2 separate regions of the Homo sapiens genome follow, and region 1 is linked to region 2. Evidence: fine-mapped expression QTL. A gene starts in region 2. The other region holds a variant in brackets. All regions are shown on one strand. Distances are between the middles of the regions.

The links. PIP is the estimated chance that this variant, and not a neighbour inherited with it, causes the effect.
Region 1: its variant is fine-mapped to the expression of SYT17 in whole blood (TOPMed, PIP above 0.99).

What each region holds. Positions count from the first base shown.
Region 1 is chr16:19,209,510-19,214,879 of GRCh38, reverse strand. All of the region lies in intron 5 of SYT17 (synaptotagmin 17), which reads right to left. Among named protein-coding and RNA genes, the nearest start is that of SYT17, 44 kb to the right of the region's middle. The variant G/A (reference allele first, on the strand shown) is at 2,599.
Region 2 is chr16:19,166,079-19,171,448 of GRCh38, reverse strand. It overlaps SYT17 (synaptotagmin 17), which reads right to left and starts at 3,209. Exons shown (of 8, transcript NM_016524.4): 1 at 2,788-3,209. The coding sequence starts at 2,802. RefSeq lists an enhancer at 2,625-3,372 and a silencer at 3,564-3,813.

The DNA.
Region 1 (5,370 bases), 43 kb before region 2:
AGGCGGAAGTTTCAGTGAGCTGAGATTGCACCACTACACACCAGCCTGGGCAACAGAGCAAGACTCTGTCTCAAAAAAAAAAAAAGAGAATTATTATTATCTTGAATGACATATGGTGAGCAGCGCCATAATTTTCAGGGCTTGGGGGCCTCAGAGCCTTATCCTAACCCAGCCCTGGAGGAAAAGGAGAGTTGCCATCACACTCAGGGTCTCTGCCCCAGAATATGTTGTACGTATGAATAACATCGTTCACTTGGGCATCATAAATGTCGGCTCTAACAATCTAGGGACAAAAATGTCCCTGGGGTGTTCCTGGAGCCAGCATCTTCTCAGTCCTTCTTCCCTAGAAGTATCAGATGCTACATCTAAAAGCTGACGAGGGCCAAGCATGGTGGCTCATGCCTATAATCCAAGAGCTTTAGGAGGTCAAAGTGGGAAGATCAATTGAGCCCAGGAGTTCGGAGCTGCAGTGAATGTTGGTGGTGCCACTGCACTCCAGCCTGGGCAACAGAGCAACACATGGTCTCTAATTTAAAACAAAACAAAAAAAGCTGACCAGGAGCCAGCTGATAAGGAGCTTAGAATGTAGGAACAGAAAGCAGGACCATCTAGTCCAGCAGCTCCTCAACTTGCCCCACTTAGGAAGATCATGAAATTAATGGTGATCTTTACAGACATCCATGAGGTGCTAGGACATCCAACTTGCATCAACCTGGGGTAATTTTGTCCTCTCTGCTGCCACCTCCAGGGACATTTGGCAACATCTGGAGATGTTTTAGTTGTCATAACTGGGGAATAGGGTAGGGTCTGCTACTGGCATCTAGTGGGTAGAGAGAGACCAGGGATGCTGCCAAACATCCTACAAGGTACAAGACAGCCCCCCTCAACAAGGAATGGTCTGGCCCAAAATATCACTAGTGCCAAAGGTGAGAAATCCTGAACTAAGCCTATAAATCTTGGGCTGATTCAGATTTTTTAAATACATAACTGTACCCTGAACAAAATTTTAACAGGAACCGAAGACTTGGAACTTTTGGTATAAGAACAGTTCGTCAGGTGCAGTGGCTTGAGCCTCTAATCCCAACTACTCGGGAGGCTGAGGTGGGAAGATGGGTTGAGGCCAGGAGTTTGAGGCCAGCCTGGGCAACAAAGCAAAACCTTCCCACCTTCCATTTCTAAACTTTCTTTATTTTTATTTTTTAATTAGCTTAGCATGGTGGCATGCATCTGTGGTCCCAGATACTCAGGAGGCTGAGACAGGAGGAATGCTTGAAGCCAAGAGTTTGAGGCTATCTGATGCGAGAAGCTCCTCTTCAAAGGTTTAGCTTGTTTAGTTTCCTTGTTCTTTGTTCTCTACTTTTAAGGCCAAACTTCCTTGCTCTCTGTACCTCCCTGTCTTGGTTTCAGTAAACAACTCTTCCACTGGTCCTTATCTACAGAGCCTACATCTACTACCCACTCTGTAAATTACCCCTCCCATCACAGCAGCTCTTCCCACCAAAACTGTCCTTCCTGCCAGTGTAACCGCATTCCCGCACTTTCCAAGTTAGCCAACCAGGTTCAGCTTAGATTGTGTGGTCCAACTCCAACCTGTGGAGGCAGGACACAGTAGCAGGGACAAGCTACGTTAGGGATAAAAACCCCTTCCCTCCTTTGTTCAGTGCACTCTCATGATGACTAGACCTGTGAGAAACACCTTCCTACAGAAGTAAATTTTGCCTTACTGGGAAATCCTTTGTTTTAGTGCTCATTTTCTTTGTGACACTGCACATTTGTTTCTAACAAGGCTTTAGTAAGCTATGATTGAACCCCTGCACTCTAGCCTGGGAGGCACAGCAAGACCCTGTCTCTTAAGAAGAAAGAAAAGTCTATTCACTGCCTCCACTGAGTCTGTCTTCAGTCCCCTCTGGATCTGAAGAGGCCAAAGCACCAGCCACAATCCAGAGCCCAGAAAGATCCAGCTAAGATTTCCTTCCTTCTTCTTTCTCCTTAAGCCATTCTTTTTCACTGCAAAGTGGACATCCAAGCACCAAATACAAAAATCCTCCTAGGAAGTGGGTTCAGCCCTCCCAAGGAAAATGGATTGCTTGTTCTGGTAGGATCTCCAACTCTGTGAAGTCTTCCTTATCCAAATTTAGTGAGATAAGATTGGAATGTCAGAGCTGAAATAATTTAGACCAATATTCTGGTTTTCTAAAAGAAAACGGAACCATGCCATTACCTCACTTCCCCGTTTATTTCTTATTTATTTATTTATTGTGACAGGAATCTCGCTCTGTGGCTCAAGTTGGAGTGCCCTGGCACAATCTTGGCTCACTGTCGCCTCTGCCTCCTGGGTTCAAGTGATTCTTGTGCCTCAGCCTCCCGAGTAGCTGAGATTACAGGCATGAGCCCCCATGCCCAGCTAATTTTTGTATTTTTAGTAGAGATAGGGTTTTACCATGCTGGCCAGGCTGGTCTCGAACTCCTGACCTCAAGTGATCTGCCCACCTTGGCCTCCCAAAGTGCTGGGATGACATGTGTGAGCCACCATACCCGGCCTCACTTCCCTGTTTAAAACCCTCCATCTCTCAAAATAAAATTCAAAGTGCTTAGCCT[G/A]GTCAACAACAGGGTTTGTCAACCTCAGCACTATTGCCACTTTGGGCTGGAGCATTCTGTGTTGTGGGAGCTGTCCTGTGCGCTACAGGAAGTTTAGCAGCATCTCTGGCCTCTACACACTGGATGCCAGCGGCATCACCCCTCTCCCCAGTGGTAAAGTCTCAGAATGTCTCCAGACATCGTCAAATGTCCACTGAGGGCAAAAATCACCCAGTTGAGAACTAATGGTCTCTAAAATAATTTATCTACGGGATCGAAATGATTTGATCCAAATGATTTGATTCCTGCCTACCTCTGAGACTTCACTCACCAACCGCCTCTGCCTTCTTTCTATTCTTTAAAAATACAAGATCATTGGCCAGGCACGGTGGCTCACACCTGTAATCCCAGCATTTTGGGAGGCTGAGGCGGGCGGATCACGAGGTCAGGAGATCGAGACCATCCTGGCTAACACAGTGAAACCGAGTCTCTACTAAAAATACAAAAATATTAGCCGGGCTTGGTGGCGGGCGCCTGTAGTCCCAGCTACTTGGGAGGCTGAGGCAGGGGAATGCCGTGAACCCGGGAGGTGGAGCGGAGCTTGCAGTGAGCTGAGATCCCGCCACTGCACTCCAGCCTCGGCGACAGAGCGAGACTCTGTCTCAAAAAAAAAAAAAATACAAGATCGTACCTGCCCCAAGGCTTGAACTTGCTATTCCCTGGGAATCTCAACTCAACAGTCACCTCCTCATCTAAGCTTCCCATTAACACTCAGTTGAAAACACCCCTCTGCCTCCATCATTTCCCATCACACCACCTTGTCATTTCCTTCACGGTACTTGGTCCTTACCTTTTTCTCCATAAAGGCAAAGAAAGTGCCCATGTGTCCACTACTATATTCACAGCACCAGAAACAAATCCAAGATCAAGCAGTGCAGCCCCCAACACAGAGGCTGAGCTGCTGCCACACCACGGGCCGAGAGGGGTTGTCAGCACGATGTTCCACCCCCTGTCCTATCCAACCCCCACAGAATCGAAGCCAAGACAGGAGAAGGAACTGGGTGACAGGCCCACTTCTACCTCGTCCCTTGTGGAAGCGATGTCACAAATAAACAGGCCTCATTTCCTTTCTTGTAAGAGCCCGATGCGCTTAATTTGGTCGAACCACGTGGGGTGGGCTAGGGAGAACCAAAATAGACAATCTGTAAATTACTCAGATGAATCCAGCAGCCGGCTTGGGCAAATGTGGCTCAGCTCTCTCCTCTCTACCCAGACAAAAATTCTCTCTCCCGGCAGCCTTTCAACACAGTTAATTTCTAATCAATAAAAAGGAAATCAAAGAAAATCATCTGGGACAAAAGACATTTTCTGGAGATAGCAAGAGCCCAGCTCTCCTCCTGACAGGTTTGCTTTGAACTCCTTCTCTATGGTCCTTTCGCTCTCTCTCACCTAGCAAAGGGTTTCAAATGTGCGCACACAAATTTTAGTGAAGCCCAAACACAGCTGCTCTGCGCCCCCTTATGCCTTTGCTCTCACCGGTTGGATAAAGTCTATTGTCTCTTAATCTGCTGCACAAACAACATTAAAATAGAAATGGATTTTTTAAAAAGCAAACTCCAACCGCAATGCCAGTGCTTTACACATTTCATCAAATGCTTTCACTTCCTTTTCTTTCTTCTTCTTTCTTCTCTTCACTTTTTTTCCCAGTCTTTGTCAATACCTCAACCCTGTATTTGCATAGCTGCATTGACAATACAGTCACATTCTGAAATACCCTTTAAGAAAAAAAAAGGGTATTTAAAAAAAAAAAATACCCTTTAAAAAAAAATACCCTTTTAAAAAAAAATACCCTTAGATCAGAGGGGAGAGGATAAAGAGAAGTGGGTTAAAGGGTACAAACATACAGTTAGTGAGAAGGAAAAAATTCAATGTTTGGGGCTGGGCACGGTGACTCACGCTTGTAATCCAAGCACTTCGGGAGGCCAAGGTGGCAGGATCACTTGAAGCCGGGAGTTCAGGACTCCTGCCTCAAGCAAGACTCCGTCTCAATTAAAAAATAATAATAATAAATGTTTGATAGTAGAGTAGTGTTACTATATTTAACAAAAATGTATTGTACCAGAATGATAGAAGCCCTAAATACTATGACTTTATCACTATATATTACATATGTAACAAAATTTCATGTGTACCTCATAAATTTGTACTAATAAAAATAAAATAATAAAATATAATAAAACTAAAAGAATTACACACACATTTTCCATGTGACTATCTAGACATTATAAGTGTCATTATAAATGTTCACATACAACATTCCATTAGGCTGAAATACTGTAACTTATATTAACCATTTTCCTATTGCTAGATACTTAGGGTTTTTTGTTGTTGTTGTTGTTGTTTTTGTTTTGTTTTGTTTTGTTTTGAGACAGAGTCTTGCTCTGTCTCCCAGGCTGGAGTGCAGTGGCACGATCTCAGCTCACTGCAAGTTCCGCCTCCCGGGTTCACGCCATTCTCCTACCTCAGCCTCCCGAGTAGCTGGGACTACAGGCGCCCACCACCACGCCCGGCTAATTTTTTTTTTTTTGTATTTTTTAGTAAAGACAGGGTTTCACCATGTTAGCCAGGATGGTCTCGATCTCCTGACCTTGTGATCCGCCCACCTCGGTCTCCCAAAGTGCTGGGATTACAGGCGTGAGCCACCGCGCCCAGCCGAAATGTTGACTTTCTATGTGAGTGCAATGCCCTTCCTCCATAAGCCCCCAGTGAGGCTGACAAGCTGCATTTCACACT
Region 2 (5,370 bases):
GGGAGGCTGAGGCAGGAGAATCACTTGAACCTGGGAAGCAGAGGTTGCAGTGAGCCGAGATCGCACCACTGCACTCCAGCCTGGGCGACAGAGTGAGACCCTGTCTAAAATAATAATCATAATCATCATCATCATCATCATCATCATCATCATCATCATAGTATAGGTGGTACGTGGCTTGTGAAAAAATTGAAATCCTCGAAGTGGTAAGGGAATAGCAACAGCTTGGGAAATAGTCAAAGGCACTTATCACAAACTCTCTAAAGCCAAAACTCAAACCATACACAGAACAAGACCCAAAGGTGCTGAGGGGCCACGCAACAAGCTGAGCCAGGAAGTACTAGAGTCCTAGTCTCACCATCGACTGATCATGTGACTTGGGCAAGACAGGGGGCCTCTCTGAGCCTCGGTTACCTCTTCTTTAGTGGAAAGGCTACTCTATACCTCAAAGGCGTGCTGTTGAGGTGGGACAGGACACTGACTATGCAAATACTTGCGTGCGGTCCAGCTGAAAAATAAAATGCACCCTTTCTGTGATGAGAATTAGGTGATTGTCAAGACCTAGTGGAACCCAGTAGGCACTGGGTATTGTCCCGGCAGGTACAGCAGGGCACAAAACAGCAAAATATTATACCCTCATAGGGCTTGCATGAAAAAGTGCTTTAGAATGTTAGGATAAAGTGATACTTTTTCATAATAATCTATGACCATTTTCTGAATACAGGGAAGCATTTCCTAGACATGTGGTGGTCAAAAGAGGCCATTTATGAAACCAAAGTGAACAGAGACAAGGTCACCTCATGGCCCTGCTGAAAAACAGCCTCCCCAACTTTCTCAAAGCCCAGGTGCAAGATGAGTGTCAAGGAGCAGAGAGAAAGCAAAGAAGATGAAAGAGGGTGCCCTGACATTCCCAGGCATGCTGAGTCTTTCTGGCATTGGGTCTCCTGGGCTCACGTGTTTGACACCGATGGAAGAGAACCAATTCACACCAGAAAGAAAGAGGAAGAAAGACAACCCATGCATTCTAAACAGAGGTTGGCAAACTAAGGCTCGCAGATCAAAACCAGCCCCGCAGCCTGTTTTGCTACAGCCCTTGAGCTAAGAATAATTTGTGAGTTTTTAAAAGGTTGAAAAAAAAAAAAGATGAATGCCTCTTGACTCGTGCAAAGTATACAAAATTCAAATTTTGGTGCCTGCAAATAAAGTTTTATTGGAACACAGCCACGCCCACTCATTTACTACTGTCCATAGCAGTTTTGGTGCTATAGTCAGAGTGGAATAGTTGTGACAGAGACCATGTGAGCCTCCAAGAGAAAAAAAATAGTATCTGGCACTTTACAGGACAACAAAGTTTAACACCTTGTTCTAGAAGGAAAACCAACATCACTGGGTCATCGCCATATGAGATGCTTAACATATCTACCACAGTCCCCTCTTGAGATCCCACCTTGACCCCTAAGCAGCTATGTGGCCTTGGGCAAGTCACTTAATTTCTCTGTGCTGAAGGCGGCCATTAAGAACTCCAGGAGCCGGTAATCATGTTCATTTCTCACTAAATTGCGCACCCAGAGGGGCAGGAACTGTGCTGTTTTCATCACTGTATCCCCAGTGCCAGCACTTAGTAGGCGGTCGCCCAAGTGTTTGTTGGGCGACTACTCAATAGCCCCTGGACAACATTCAGCACACAGTGGGTGGACAGTAATGTGACCTTCATTGAACTTGAAGAGAAACTGGCGATTCCACGAAAGGGAAGCCAATTCAGGGAATCTAAGGCAGGAGATGAATGGAAGAGGCTCCGCCAGGTGACACAGCACAGAGTTCCCGGCAGGCTGAAGCGTCTGAGGACACGATGAGGGGATATGTGACCCAGAGGGGAATGGGAGGACCAGCAGCACCCCCAGCTGTGGCTGAGGGGACAAGATGTGAGCCAAGATGCACCCTGGACGTGGGAGTCTGTAAGCTTCTCTGCCCAGCTCAGAGGCGCCAGCGCCAGAAGCAAGCAGCTCAACGGGTCTCACTGCGGGTCTGCCTGCTTGACCTTGGCGCTGACCTGCGGTCACTTCCCTTCTTGCAGAGGAGAAAGGTCTTTTCACCAAGAAGCCCGGCCCACCCCTCCGCCCCCTCCCCCCAAAAAAGGCTGCTTAGAAATTATTTCAGAATTATTTCAGCCCAAGGATTCTTGGGGGACGTTTCTTCAAGGTGAAGAGGGTCCACATCTCCCAGACCCCAATGCAGCGGAGTAAAGTAACAGGCTCCCTTCTCTTCACCAGCGCGCCTCTGGCCTCTGGGTGTCCCCCACCCCTCAGCACCCAGTGCCCAGGAGAGACGACGTCCTTGTCCCTCCTGGTCGGAACAGCTGCCTCAGGCTCGCTCCGCCGGCCAATTAGCCGGAGCCGTCACCACGGCAACGGCAGCTGGCGGGCCGGGTGGCTGGCGCGCCCCGGGCCGCCCTCCCCACGGCCCCTCCCCTGGGGTGGGGTGCCAAGGAGAGGGAGGGGGCAGGGGAGAAGAAAAGTCCGCCCCACCCCCCATTCCCTCCCCAAGAGGCAAGGGCGCGCGTTGCAGAGTACACATAGGACCCTCCATCCCGGGGTTTGGGGGTCCCCAGTCTCTCCTCCCGGGGCGCACCCCTGTTGCTGCACAGGTTGCCCGCGCACGGGCACCCTTTTTCTCGAAGCAAGTTTGTGGGAGCCTAGCCGTGGGCCCTCCCTTCCGCGCGCTCCCAGCCGGAGGGGGCGCGGCACCCCCTACCCGCACCCCGGACCTTGCCCCCAGCCTCAGCCCTACCTGGATGTACGCCATTTTCGCCCGCGCGCACTCACTCCGGCCCGGGCATGGCGCCGCCACGGCCACTTTGCCCTCGCCAACAGCGGAGGGGGAAGAAAGCAAAGGGGGAAAGGAAGAAAAAGGCAGCCGGTGGCCCCAGACGTGACTGGCGTGGCTGATGAGCGGCGCCCGCCCCTCCGCCGGCCGCCCCGTCCTTGCCTTTCCCTGCGTTCCGGCTCTCGGAATCGGGGCCGCCTCCCCGGTTCGGAGATATCGGGCGCCCAGGGCCCCCGCCTCGGCCTCCCTCGCTGTCCCGTGCTCCCCACCGAGGCGCTCCCCAGGCTGGAATAAGGCCGGGGCGCCTGGGCAAGCAGCCCGGGGCAGCTGCGGGGACTGCAGCGACCCCAGCGCAGGCGGGGCCGGAGACGCCGGGGCCGGAGCGCGCAGGAGGCGGGGGAGGGGATGGGAATGGGGAAGGGGGTGGGAGGGGGCGGTACACAGGTCAGCCCATCCTGCTGGCACGGGGGCTGGCACCTACCGAAAGCAGCGCCCCCGGGGCAGCCGTGGAGCCGAGGGGACACAGTGCAGCCTGCCATGAAGTCTGCAGCAGGGAGGGTCCTTCCCATCCAGCCCTCTCCCCAAACTGGGTTGGAAAAACTTTATTCCCGCCCCACCCGACGCGCCTAGCACGGTTGCGGTGAGGCTTGCAGAGGCTGCGTGGATGGGAGCCTCAAGTTAAGGTGGGCGTAGGGCGTCCCAAACGGAGGTGCTGCGTCCAGGGCTGCAGGGGGCGCGCGGAGAGAGCGGAGCGCCCCTTTACCCTAAACCTGCCGGAGTTGCGCCCTGGACGCAACAGGTCTAGCGCGGGGCGGCCCGGCAGCGCCACCCAGCGTCGTGCCCGGCCTCGTGCGCTCCTCTGCCCACGGGCAGGCGGCCGCCAGCGAGCGTGCGCCCCGGGGCGTGTCCACCGCCGCCCTCCTGCCTGTCCTCGTGGCTGGGGCGCCCTGGACCCAGAGGCCTCCATCAAACCTCCCAGCCCAAGGCCTCTGGCTCTCCACTCAGAGATTCGAGGTGGAACATTGCCCTCCGCTGGATTTCTTATTTTATTTTATTTTATTTTATTTTATTTTATTTTATTTTATTTTATTTTATTTTATTTTATTTTTGACACAGGGTGTCACTCTGTCACCCAGGCTGGAGTGCACTGGGGTAATCTTGGCTCACTGAAACCTCCGCCTCCCAGGTTCAAGGGATTCTCGTGTCTCAGCCTCCCGAGTAGCTGGGACTACAGGCACATGCCACCACGCCCACTAATTTTTGTATTTTTGGTAGAGAAAGGGTTTCACCATGTGGGCCAGGCTGGTCTCGAACTCCTGGCCTCAAGTGATCTGCCTGCCTCGGCCTCCCAAAGTGCTGGGATTAGGGGCGTGAGCCACTGCGCCGGGCCGGTTTTCTTTTTAATATGCCCAGTCATCTCCTGTTGCCGGACACCAGCTTATCAGCATTTTAATTTTAACCTCCCAGTGCCTCTTTTTCCTCAGTAAAAACAGGAGAAAATCTCCACCCTGCCTATCCTCCAGGGCTGATTTGTGGGAATAAATGAGAAAATGAATATGGGAGTAACAAAAGATGGATATTCAGATGCATATATTTTTTGTCTAAAAATCTAGCAGACCTATACATTTTTTAGTATGATATATTTAGTTTGTAGCATATAGCACGTAACGCATATTGAGTGCTTATGATTCTGCAGGCATACACGCCTCAACACTTCACAAGCGTTATTTCATTTCAACCTGCAGTACCTTGATCACTCCTATTAGGTAGCACCTGTCCAGCCAGAGTAGGCACTCAGTAATTGTTTTTGTTGCCTTATTCACTCTGCTTCCTGAGGGAGGTGCTATGATTATCTCCAATTTATGAGGGACTGCAGCCCAGACAGGTAAAGCCTCTATGAAGGCCTGACAGCTGGTAGCCCAGGGCACTGACATTTGAACCCACAAGTCCAGCAGTGAACCCAAAGTGGCCACTCCTAACCACTTTGTGGTATTTATCCACAATCTTTCTCCAGCACTGATGGCAAGGCATGCCAGGTGGGGAGTGAGCCTCACAGAGGAGGATGCCTATTGGAACGGGTGCTCCTTGGGGGCACTTGAGGGAGTTCGAGGAATTTGCTAGGTGTTCCCATAAGTAAAAATAGTTAACCCTTTTTCACCTGAGGTCAGGAGTTCGAGATCAGCCTGGCCAACATGGCGAAACTCCGTCTCTACTAAAAATACAAAAAATAGCCGGGCATGGTGGCAGGTGCCTGTAATCCCAACTACTCAGGAGGCTGAGGCTAGGAGAATCACTTGAACCTGGGAGGCGGAGGTTGCAGTGAGCTGAGATCGTGCCACTGCACTCCAGCCTGGGTGACAGAATGAGATACCATCTCAAAAAAAAAAAGTTAACCCTTTTTGAGGTCTGTGTACCAGGCACTGTTTTCAGCCCTTTACACAAATTTTGATCTTTTAATTCTCTGATTACCATGAGGTAGGCACAAGTACTATCCCACTCTTTAGGTGAGAAAAAAAGAGGCATTAAGAGGTGAAGTTGGCCAGGCAT